2 separate regions of the Homo sapiens genome follow, and region 2 is linked to region 1. Evidence: fine-mapped expression QTL. A gene starts in region 1. The other region holds a variant in brackets. All regions are shown on one strand. Distances are from middle to middle. Region 1 holds the start of CTNNA1 (catenin alpha 1). Region 2 overlaps CDC25C (cell division cycle 25C).

The links.
Region 2: its variant is fine-mapped to the expression of CTNNA1 in whole blood (INTERVAL, PIP 0.97).

What each region holds. Positions count from the first base shown.
Region 1 is chr5:138,750,503-138,755,878 of GRCh38, reverse strand. It overlaps CTNNA1 (catenin alpha 1), which reads right to left and starts at 2,454. Exons shown (of 18, transcript NM_001903.5): 1 at 2,369-2,454. It overlaps CTNNA1-AS1 (CTNNA1 antisense RNA 1), which reads left to right and starts at 1,955. Exons shown (of 2, transcript NR_134244.1): 1 at 1,955-2,356. RefSeq lists enhancers at 1,287-1,853, 1,854-2,421 and a silencer at 2,125-2,564.
Region 2 is chr5:138,289,080-138,294,455 of GRCh38, reverse strand. It overlaps CDC25C (cell division cycle 25C), which reads left to right. Exons shown (of 14, transcript NM_001790.5): 8 at 2,340-2,486; 9 at 3,716-3,817; 10 at 4,893-4,955. Among named protein-coding and RNA genes, the nearest start is that of GFRA3, 17 kb to the right of the region's middle. The variant G/A (reference allele first, on the strand shown) is at 2,881.

The DNA of each region.
Region 1 (5,376 bases):
AAAAAAAAAAAAAAAAAAAAAAAAAAAAAAAAAGAAGGAAATCCCAAAACCCGGGCAGGGCAGTTACCCTGGATCTCCACATCTGGTTCATGTCTCCAGAAGAGACAGGAGTCCCACTTTGGACACCTTGAGTTTGAGAAGCCTGGGACACCCAAAAAGCTTCCCAATGCACAGGTGACCATGTGGGTCAGGAGACACACCTGCACTCAAAGGCTTGGACTTTTAGCACATAAGGCTGATGACAGAAGAGACTGCACAGAGCAGTGATTCTCATCTTGGAGGAGGGTACCTCTCATCTCTAAGTCACTATATGAAATGAGATATCACTGATGGGAGTGAAGGTGATGCCACATCAGTGGTGTGGAGGACAAAGATACTTTGGAAAGAACCCTGGGTACGAGAGGAAAGAGTGAGGGCGAGGAAAAGAAAGAAACTGAGATGAGTCAAAAGGAAAAGAAAACCAGGAGAGTGATATCACAATTCCCCAAACTCCTATGCCCTTTTATGCTTCTCATGACTTTCTCCCTTCACTTAAAAAAAACTCGACTCATGTTTCATCCAGATCAAATGCCACCACCTCCTGAAAGCCTTTCTGGACTTACCCAAGTAAAACTTATTAGCCCCCTCTCCGTGCCTCTACAAGTTTCTTTTGTTGTTACTATTAGGTAAGATTTGACTCAGACAATAGTTTCATTAGTACTGTTAAGGCACTTACTGCAGTCCGCTCTGTACTACACCTGGGGTGTGTGTCTCCCCTATTACACTGTGAGCTCTTAGGTGGATTAAAAAATTATTCTTTCGCTGAATAAATATCCAGATGGGGTCAGGCACCCTGGCTCAGGCCTGTAATCACAACACTTTGGGAGGCTGAGGCAGGAGGACCACTTGAGCCCAGGAGTTCGAGACCAGCTTGGGCAAGACAGCGAGACACCATCTCTACCAAAAATACAAAAATTAGACGGATGTGGTGGCGCGTGCCTGTAGTCCCAACTACTTCGGAAGCCGAGGTGGGGGGATCACTTGAGCCCAGGAGACAGAAGCCGCAGTGAGTCATGATCGTGTCACTGCGCTCCAGCCCGGGCGACGGAGACCCCGTCTTTAAAAAAAATGTTTGTTCAAAAGTCCAGATTGGTAAATAATTAGGCAGAAACTATAGGTAACTCCTACACTCATTCTTCATTCTTCCTGTAAAACAAAATAACACATCCTAATTAATTCGATTTATAAATTCCGTTCCTTAAAGTAACACCCACCTGTCCAGTATTTAAAAATCACTGCTGACTAAACACAAATATTCGCTCCACAAAATGCCTATCCTGTCCCAACAATGATGTAAGCATTTCCTTCATCATAAATATAAAATGCCCCGAATTTAGTCGTAGACTTGACATATCTCGCTCTTTTCCAAATAATTGTAAATTCTGTACAAAACACACGCACCAAAAAAATGTCACCAAGATGCAAGAGGACGTAAGAGGGAGTCAACCTTGGAACTGGGCCAACCGCCGCCTGCATTACTGGGAAGCCACTGCTGCCAAGCAAAGGTCAGGCATTCATTCAGGCAACATTTTTTCCAACAAGTGCTTCACACTCGCACGCACACACACGCTCCTTTAAAAGTCAACAACAATTAAAAAAAAAAAAAAACCTCTCTAATGCCACTCCTGAAAACTAGGGCTGAAAGCTAAGTGCGTCCAACCGACAAGAAACCCAGGAAAGCTGAGTAATCCCCGAGTCCAAGTGGACGGTCACGCCAAAAGTCCACACGGGTGTGGCCCACCTACGGCGAAGCTGTATGGGAGAAGCCCGGGCTCCAGCCTCCCGGTTCGCCGAGCCCGCGTCCCCGCCGCCCCATCGGGAAGTCTCAGCGGCCGGGAAGGGGGAGGGGGCAGGAACGCCTCGGAGCCGGACGACAATCACTTCCCGGGAAAGCGGCTCCCAGACAAGCCGCCCCAGGGAAGGAAGGCGGCCGAGGGGCCCGGCGCGGGGCTGCCGCGCGCGCCGAGGCCGCGGTAACAAAGTTTGGAAACCGCGAGAAAACTTTTCCAAGAGGAAACGCGGCGGCGGCGCTGGGCCTATAGTTTCTCCTCCCCAGCCCAGGCGGCCCCCCGACTTCCCGAGCGCTGGGAAGCGCCGGCCGTGCCCGCCCGGGCCCCATACTCGGGCCCTGCGGGGGAAGGGACCGCCGGCCCGACGCGGGTCCCACGCCCGCCCGGGGCCCAATTCCCGGCGACGTCGCCAAAGAAACCGCGCCCCGCCCGCTCGCCCGCCCGCGGCTCGCGGGGCCCAGCTTGGGACGGCCCGGCCCAAGGACCCTCTCGGCCTGGCCCGAGAGACCGCGCCCGCGAGGAGGGAGGTACGAAGTTACCTGCGGCTAGCTGGGCGAGCGCTAAATTCCAGAGGCCCGAAGCAGACGGGCGCTGCTTTGTCTCCCTCCAGTCCGGCTAGGAGGAGGAAATGGGCCGCCCCACGCCCCCGCCCCCGGCCCGCCCCCCGCCCGCGGCCCCCGCCCCTGTCCCGGCCCCGCCCGCCCTTCCTGGCACCTCCCTCCGACTCGCTCTTCCCGGCGCCTCCCGCCGCCGCCCCGCCCGCTCCTCCCGGCCGTTCCGGCCTCCGCTTTTGGGGAAAGGGAAGGCCCCCACCGCGAAGAGAGTCTGGCAACGCCGGACCGGGACCCCCGAGGGACCTCTTCCTCCCCGCCGCCCACCTCAGAATTCCTTCCTCCCCGGCCCCTAGTGGGAGCTTAGGCCGGGAGTGACCCCTGAGAGGGAGGAGGAGCGGTGACTCCTGGAACAGCCCGCGGGCGGAGAGGGCTGCGCGAGGGCAGGTGAGTCACCGCTCCGCGCACAGGTGAGGCTCAGGGGCGGCCTCGCGCGGGCCCCCACCCCGGCGGAATCCCAGAGACGCGACCAGGGGTACTGGGCACGCTCCCCTCAAGAGTGTCACAGGTGTCCCGGAGTCACAGTCTTCTGGAAAAGTGATCTAGGCCAACTACCTGGCTTTACAGAAGGAGAAGCGGAGGCTAAGGAAAGGCCCCACAGCTTCGGGACACAGTGGAACTAGAATCTGACTCTCAGGACCTTTCATAATGTGAGGTGGAAGCGCCCCTAGAATTCACCTAACCCGTCCCCTCACTCCACAGATGGAAACACCCGAAGCCCTCTTGATCAAGGACTTTTTTTTTTTTTTAAGACGGGGTCTCCCTCTGTCGCCCAGGCTGGGGTGGAGTGTCGCGATCACGGCCCACTGCAGCCTCAAATCCCTGGACAACCGACCCTCCCACCTCAGCCTCCGGAGTAGCTGGAACTACAGACACAGAGTCTCACTATGTTGCCAGGCTGGTCTCAAACTCATGGGCTCAAGAAATCCTCCTCAGCCTCCCAAAGTGCTGGGATTACAGGCTAGAGCCACCTTGCGGGGAGGACATTTACAAACACAAAAGAGGCACCGCAGCAGCTGTCCCTTTTTGGGCTTGTTCCCGCCCCGCCCCCAGCACGTCCCCCCTCCCAGCTTGTCCCCCTCCTCCAACAAATTTGAGGGACCTGACTTCTATCTCTATTCCTCTGGTCATTTGGGGCATTTTATTCTTACCCTTTCTTATCTTCATAGTGAATACTCCAAAAACAAAAGAAAACAAAATTACAAAGCAAACAAACAACACAAAAAAACAAAAACTACTACATGCTCACTATCATCCTGGTATAGAAAACCCTAATGATGTTTCCCCTGCTCACGGGATGATGAATAAGATAGATTTCAGTATTGGCCTATAAACCTGAATAATGCAAGACGACGATGTCCACTGCTGGCCTTGTGCTGAATAGAGAGCAGGGTGCTAGGGAGACCTGCCCTTACCGTGTTTACCCTCTACTCCTCACATCTCCCTCTCCCCCAAGGGAATATAAACTTCTGGAAAGCAGGAGCTGTATCTCCTGCAGCACCCAGCACATTGCCCATCCCCTAGGGAGTGCCTAGTGAACATCTGTGGGTGAATGTGCCCACTGTAATTCAAAGTACTGTGGGCCTGTGCTAGTTAACAGATGCTGACAAAGGGCAATAGGACCATGAAGTGGGGAGAGAACAACCTTTAAGAAAAAGAGGATGGGCACAGTGGCTCACACAAGTAATCCCAGCACTTTGGGAGGCCAAGATGGGTGGATCACATGAGCTCAGGAGACCAGCCTGGGCAAAATGATAGAACCCTTGTCTACAAAAAAATACAAAAACATAGCTGGGTGTAGTGGCACCTACCTGTAGTCCCAGCTACTTGGGAGGCTGAGGTGGGAGGATCGCTTGAGCCTGGGAGTTCAAGGCTGCAGTGAACCATGACTGCACCACTGCACTCCAGCCTGGGCAACACAGTGAGACTCTGTCTCAAAAAGAAAAAGAAAAAGGCAAACCCTGACAAGGTCATTCTTGTCCAACTACCCCTGTCCTGTTTCTGGCTGCAGGGTCTTTGCTCCTGTAGTCTCCTCTGCCTAGAGTGGCTTTGGCGTCCCTCTACTTCACCTGGCTAACTCAGAACATAATTCATATATTTTGGATATTTGTCCCTGCCCAAATCTCACATTGAAATGTAATCCCCAGTGTTGGAGGTGGGGCTGGTGGGAGGCATTTGGGTAATAGAGGAGGATCCCTCATGGCTTGGTGCTGTCCTCCAGGTACTAAGGGAATTCTCATGAAATGTAGTCGTTTTAAAGTGTAGCACCGGCCAGGCACAGTGGCTCACACCTGTAATCCCAACACTTTTGAGAAGCCAAGGTGGGCGGATAGCTTGAGCCCAGGAGTTCGAGACCAGCCTGGGCAACATGGTAAAAACCCATCTCTACAAAAAAATACAAAAAAATTAGCCAAGCAGGCTGGGCACCGTGGCTCACGCCTATAGTCCCAGCACTTCAGGAGGCCAAAGCGGGCAGATCATCTGAGGTCAGGAGTTCAAGACCAGCCTGGGGCAACATGGTGAAACCCCATCTCTACTAAAAGTACAAAATTAGCAGGGCATGGTGGCATGTGCCTGTAATCCCAGCTACTCGGGACGCTGAGGCAGGAGAATCATTTGAACCTGGGAGGCAGAGGTGGAGCCGAGATCACGCCATTACACTCCAACCTTGGCAACAAAAGCAAAAGTCTGTCTCAAAAAAAAAAAAAAAGCCAGGCATGGTGGTGTGTGCCTGTAGTCCCAGCTACCTGGGGGGCTCAGGTGGGAAGATCACCTGAGCCTGGGGAGATTGAGGCTGCAGTGAGCCATGATTGTGCCACTACACTCCAGCCTGGGCAACGGAGTGAGACCCTGTCTCAAAAACAAAAAGATGTGGCACCTCAGCCCCCTCCTGCTCCTGCTTTCAGCATGTAATGTGCCTGCTCCAGCTTCACCTT
Region 2 (5,376 bases), 460 kb after region 1:
AACTTTGGGAGGCTGAGGTGGATGGATCACGAGGTCAGGAGTTCGACACCAGCCTGACCAACACGGTGAAACCCCGTCTCTACTAAAAATACAAAAGTTAGCTGGGCATGGTGGCAGGCACCTGTAATCCCAGCTACTCGGGAGGCCGAGGCAGGAGAATTGCTGAAACCTGGGAGGTAGAGGTTGCAATGAGCCGAGATCGTGCCACTGCACTCTAGCCTGGGTGACAGAGCTAGACTCCATCTCAAAAAAAAAAAAAAAATTAGCCAAGCATGGTAGTCAGCACCTGTAATGCCAGCTACTCCAGAGGCTGAGGCAAGGAGAATCACTTGAACCTGGGAGGCGGAGGTTGCAATGAGCCGAGATCATGCCATTGCACCCCAGCCTGGGCGACAGAGTGAGACTCTGTCTCAAAAAAAAAAAAAAAAAAATCCAAAGAAAACGGAGACAATTTTTGTGACCTTGAGTTGGCAAAAATTTATTAGATACAATGCTTAAAAATGGATACAGACTGGGCGTGGTGGCTCATGCCTGTAAACCCAGCACTTTGGTAGGCCAAGGCGGATGGATCACTTAAGCCCGGGAGTTCGAGACCAGCCTGGACAACATGGTAAAACCCTCTCTCTATAAAAAATACAGAAATTGGCTGGGCATGGTGATGCGCATCTGTAGTCCCAGTTACTCAGGAGGCTGAGTTGGGAGGATCGCTTGAGCCTGAGAGGCAGAGGTTGCAGTGAGCTAAGATTGTGCCACTGCACTCCAACCAGAGTGACAGCGAGACCCTATCTCAAAAAAAAAAAAAAAAAGATAAGTTTCAATTAGCTAATTAATTCCAAACTCTTAGTAATATGGCTCTTAGCATAATTATTATGGTGTGTTCTAGAGAAGCCCCTTTTGAAATCCTCATCTAGCTTTCCCCTGCCTTCTCAGGGGAAAATTGAAGTTATATGAAGTCCTGTCTGTCATGGAGACCAGGCACCCTACTCCTCAGTGCCTCACCATATCTCCTTTCCTACCCTACCTTTGGTTGATCCATTCATGCATCACTGGCTTCGTGGCCTTGACTGTATCTCTTGGCTTCTTCCTTTTGGGCTTTGGCTTCTGCTACTGCCTAATTATTTCTCCATCTTCCAAGTTAGGCAACCAAGAGAGGGAACCTGATTGGCCTAGATTATTTTTGCTTATTCTAGACCACTAAATAGATGTGTTCAACCAGCAATATGGTCCAGTCATCAGTGTCTGGGGGGTAGGGTGGATGGGGACATAGGGCGATGTTTGGAAGGAGTCTAAGGGTACGTATAATGTGGACGGTACCATCAGCTGGTATCACGAACAAGAGGTAGGACCATGTGTGTGATAAACAACATAATATCCATAGCTGTCATAAAGCAAAATGTTGTTATTCTTATTTCGTTCTTCCAGAAACCATTGATCATCAAGCTGCCTTCCAGTTATGGCTCTCTTATTGTATAGCCCCCCTCCTAAATCAGTCCATAACAGGTAGTGCGATAAGTGTTTAGAGAAGGAGCTTTTGCCTGTTCTCTAGGTGAGAGGTAGAGATCTCAAAGTATGTGGCAACAGAGGATAGAATTGTGGATTAGTTGGAAGGTGTTATCAGAGGTCATTTGATAGACCCTCAACTCTGAATATAGCACCCAAACCATGCCTTTCAAATAAACAACAGTCTATCCTCTTATACTTTAATCTGTTCCTGTGTAAGCAATTCTCAAGGCTAGTTCTTCATGACGTTTGAGCCACTTTTTTTTCCCTGATGGGTTTCATAGTATCCATCCTATAATGGTCAGCATGCTATTTGATTTTAGTGTGTCCTTTTTTCTTGCATGATGCTTCTTTTGCTATTTTTCTTCTTGGCTTTTCATCTTTAGGTTTGTTGAGGTCCTTAAATCCTGATTGTCAATGTCCTAGGATCCCAGAGACAAAATGGACTTATGTTTTTTTTTTTTTTTTTTTTTTTGGTCACATAACTGGAGGGACTGAGCTTGTGTTTGCTTTCTGTTAGAAGAACTGGTGCATCTAAGACAGTCAGCTGCAGAATTTGGTTTGGCTAGTTAAGACGTCCATGGAGATGGAATATCATGCAGTCCAGGTAGAAAGATATTAACGGGCCTATGAAGACAGGTTGCCTACCCAAGGCTTCTCAAACTTGAGAAATCACCTGGGCATCTTGTTAAAATGCAGATTTTAATTCAGTAGGTTTGGGGTGTGGCCTAACATCTGGAAACCTGCATTTCAAAGAAGCTCCCAGGAGATGTTGTTGCTGCAGGTCTGCAGACACACTTGGAGGAGTAAGAACTAGGGGGTTTAATATTCCCAAACAGGTGAGCAGAAGTGGCCTATATCGCTCCCCGTCGATGCCAGAGAACTTGAACAGGCCAAGACTGAAGCAGGTGGAAAAATTCAAGGACAACACAATACCAGATAAAGTTAAAAAAAAGTATTTTTCTGGCCAAGGAAAGCTCAGGAAGGTAAGAACTTTTTAAGATGAAAATCTTGTTCATCTTCTATCTCATGTCTTTGCTTTTCTGGTATGAGGATTGTTTTATTATGCCTTTTTTGTCTTCTTCCTCTTTACTTTTACTTTTTCCTCTTTGTTCTTTCCATCTTTCTGTCTTTTCTACATCTGTATCCACGTGAAATATATATATATATATAAAATATTTATATAACATAGATACATAAAGTATATCTATATTGTACTTTTAGAAATGTTGTCATAGGCCGGGTGCAGTGGCTCACGCCTATAATCCTAGCACTTTGGGAGGCCGAGGCGGGCGGATTGCCTGAGCTCAGGAGTTCAAGACCAGACTGGGCAACACGGTGAAACCCCGTCTCTACTAAAATACAAGAAATCAGCTGGGC[G/A]TGGCAGCATGTGCCTGTAGTCCCGGCTACTCAGGAGGCTGAGGCAGGAGAATCGCTTGAACCCGGGAGGTGGAGGTTGCAGTGAGCCAAGATTGTGCCACTGCACTCCAGCCTGGGCAACAGAGCAAGACTCCGTCTCAAAAAAAAAAAAAAAAAGAGAAATGTTGTCATCATACCGTCTTCCCAACCCTTTTTCTTAAGATCTGAAAGAATACAAGGGAACTTTGGTATGGATATTTTACTGCTGTTTTACATGCAGTCTGACAGAAACAACATCATATAGCAGGTTGGTTTTGTGGAAAGCAACTTCTGAAAAACTTAGCCTTTGTCCTTTACCCTCCCCAACTTTAAAAAAATTAAATAGATGGGAGGATCACTTAAGGTCAGAAGTTCAAGACCAGCCTGGTCAATATAGCATGACCCCATCTCTAATAAAAAAAAATAAAATAAAAAATTAAAATTCTAAAATCTTTGGATATTTTATAAAATCAACTTATTTATTTATTTATTTATTTTCCCCTGAGATGGGGTCTCACTCTGTCACCCAGGCTGGATTGCAGTGGCATGGTCTTGACTCACTGCAGCCTCAATATTTATTTATTATTAAAAATAATAAATAAACAAATGGAGTCTCACTCTGTCTCCCAGACTGGAGTGCAGTGGTGCAATCGTAGCTCACTATAGCCTTGGCCTCCTGGGCTCAAGTGATCTCCCTACCTCAGCCTCCCATGTAGCTAGGATTACAGATGTGCGCCACCATGGCCCACTCCATCCACTGGTTTTTAAACCTTTAACATGAGGATTGGGTGTGGGGTGGGAATCTTGTCATCTTCAGGGCTTATGTTTAAAGAAGACAGTCTCTCTGTGTGACATTACTATCACTCAGATGCTGGAGGAAGATTCTAACCAGGGGCACCTGATTGGTGATTTTTCCAAGGTGAGTTTGGCTACACCCATCCTGTATTTCAGTGAGTCATTTTGGATCTGAATCTTCTCTGTTTGCCGAGAATGCCTGGTGTAAATATGCATCCTCACCAAGTACTCTTTGGTAACCTGACAGTGCTCTAGTGGTAGATCCAGGCCCTAAGCCTTTCCAGAGAGAAAGTATTTCTTATTCTTCTGGGAAGATCCAGAACAGGGGAAAGTATGAGACTTTTTACCTTTTTTCTGTTTAAAAACATATTTTAAAATTATGTAAATAATACTTGGTTGTTACAGAAAAAGTAGAAAATGAAGAAATTTATCCCAAACTTTATTAACCAGGGTAATATTGCTTAGTATATACTCTTTTTTTCCCCCCTACTGTCTGTGTAATTGCAGAAGGTACATATTCTTACAGATTTTTTTCTGTGTTTTCACAAACACATATACAAATACAGTTTTTGCTTTTCTACAAAAACAGTTTATATTGTTTTGTTATCTGTTGTTTTTCCTCTCATTTAATAATTATATCAGGGGCATCTTTTTTCATATTAATAAGCAGTTATGCTTCATTCTTTCTTTTTTTAAGATTCAAGGTCTTGATCTGTTGCCCAGGCTGGAGTACATTGGCATGATCATAGCTCACTTCAGCCTCGAGCTCCTGGCCTCAAGAAATCCTCTCTCTCCTTGGCTTCCCAAAGCACTGAGGTTACAGGCATGAGCCACCATGCCCAGCCCATTTCATTTTAATAGCTCCATATTATTTCTTTTTTTTTTTTTTTTGGCTGCTCATAATTTCTTCATAAATCCCTTCTTGTAAGATATTTGGTTTTACAATTTTTTCTTATGAATGATACCAAGATGAATATATTTGTAGAGAAATCTAAAACTTCGTACACATCCTTGATTTGTTCTTTAGGATCAGTTCTTAGAAATGGACTTGATGTATATGCACTTTATAGAGACACTGATTTTTTTGAAGGCCTCTGGGGTTTTAAGGGTCACTTGGAAAGAAGGACAAAATAAGGGTCTTTGATCTCAAACTTGGGTGTGGAATACTTGCTGTTATTTCAGCTCTTGTGTATTTCTAGGTATGTGCGCTGCCAACCGTGTCAGGGAAACACCAAGATCTGAAGTATGTCAACCCAGAAACAGTAAGCAGATTTCTGGAGATGGTAACTGGTTACATAAGCTACCATCTGGTCTCTTCTGTCCCTAAAATGCCCATTTCCATTTGTATTTCTTTCACTGTGTTCACTCACACAGGCTCCTTATTCAACTGAAGTTATATTGAAGGACTCATTTTTTTCCCCATTCTTCTCTCTCCTTCGTTTTTAGTTAAACAAATGATACATAGTTTTTGTAAAAGGGAAAAAGGGAGGGGTCAGGCATGGTGGCTCACGCCTGAAATCCTAGCATTTTGGGAGGCTGAGGCAGGCAGATCTCAGGCACTTGAGGCAGGGAATTCGAGACCACCCTGGCCAACATGGCGAAACCCCATCTCTAATAAAAATACAAAAAAATTAACCAGGCGTGGTAATGTGTGCCTATAATCCCAGCTACTTGGGAGGCTGA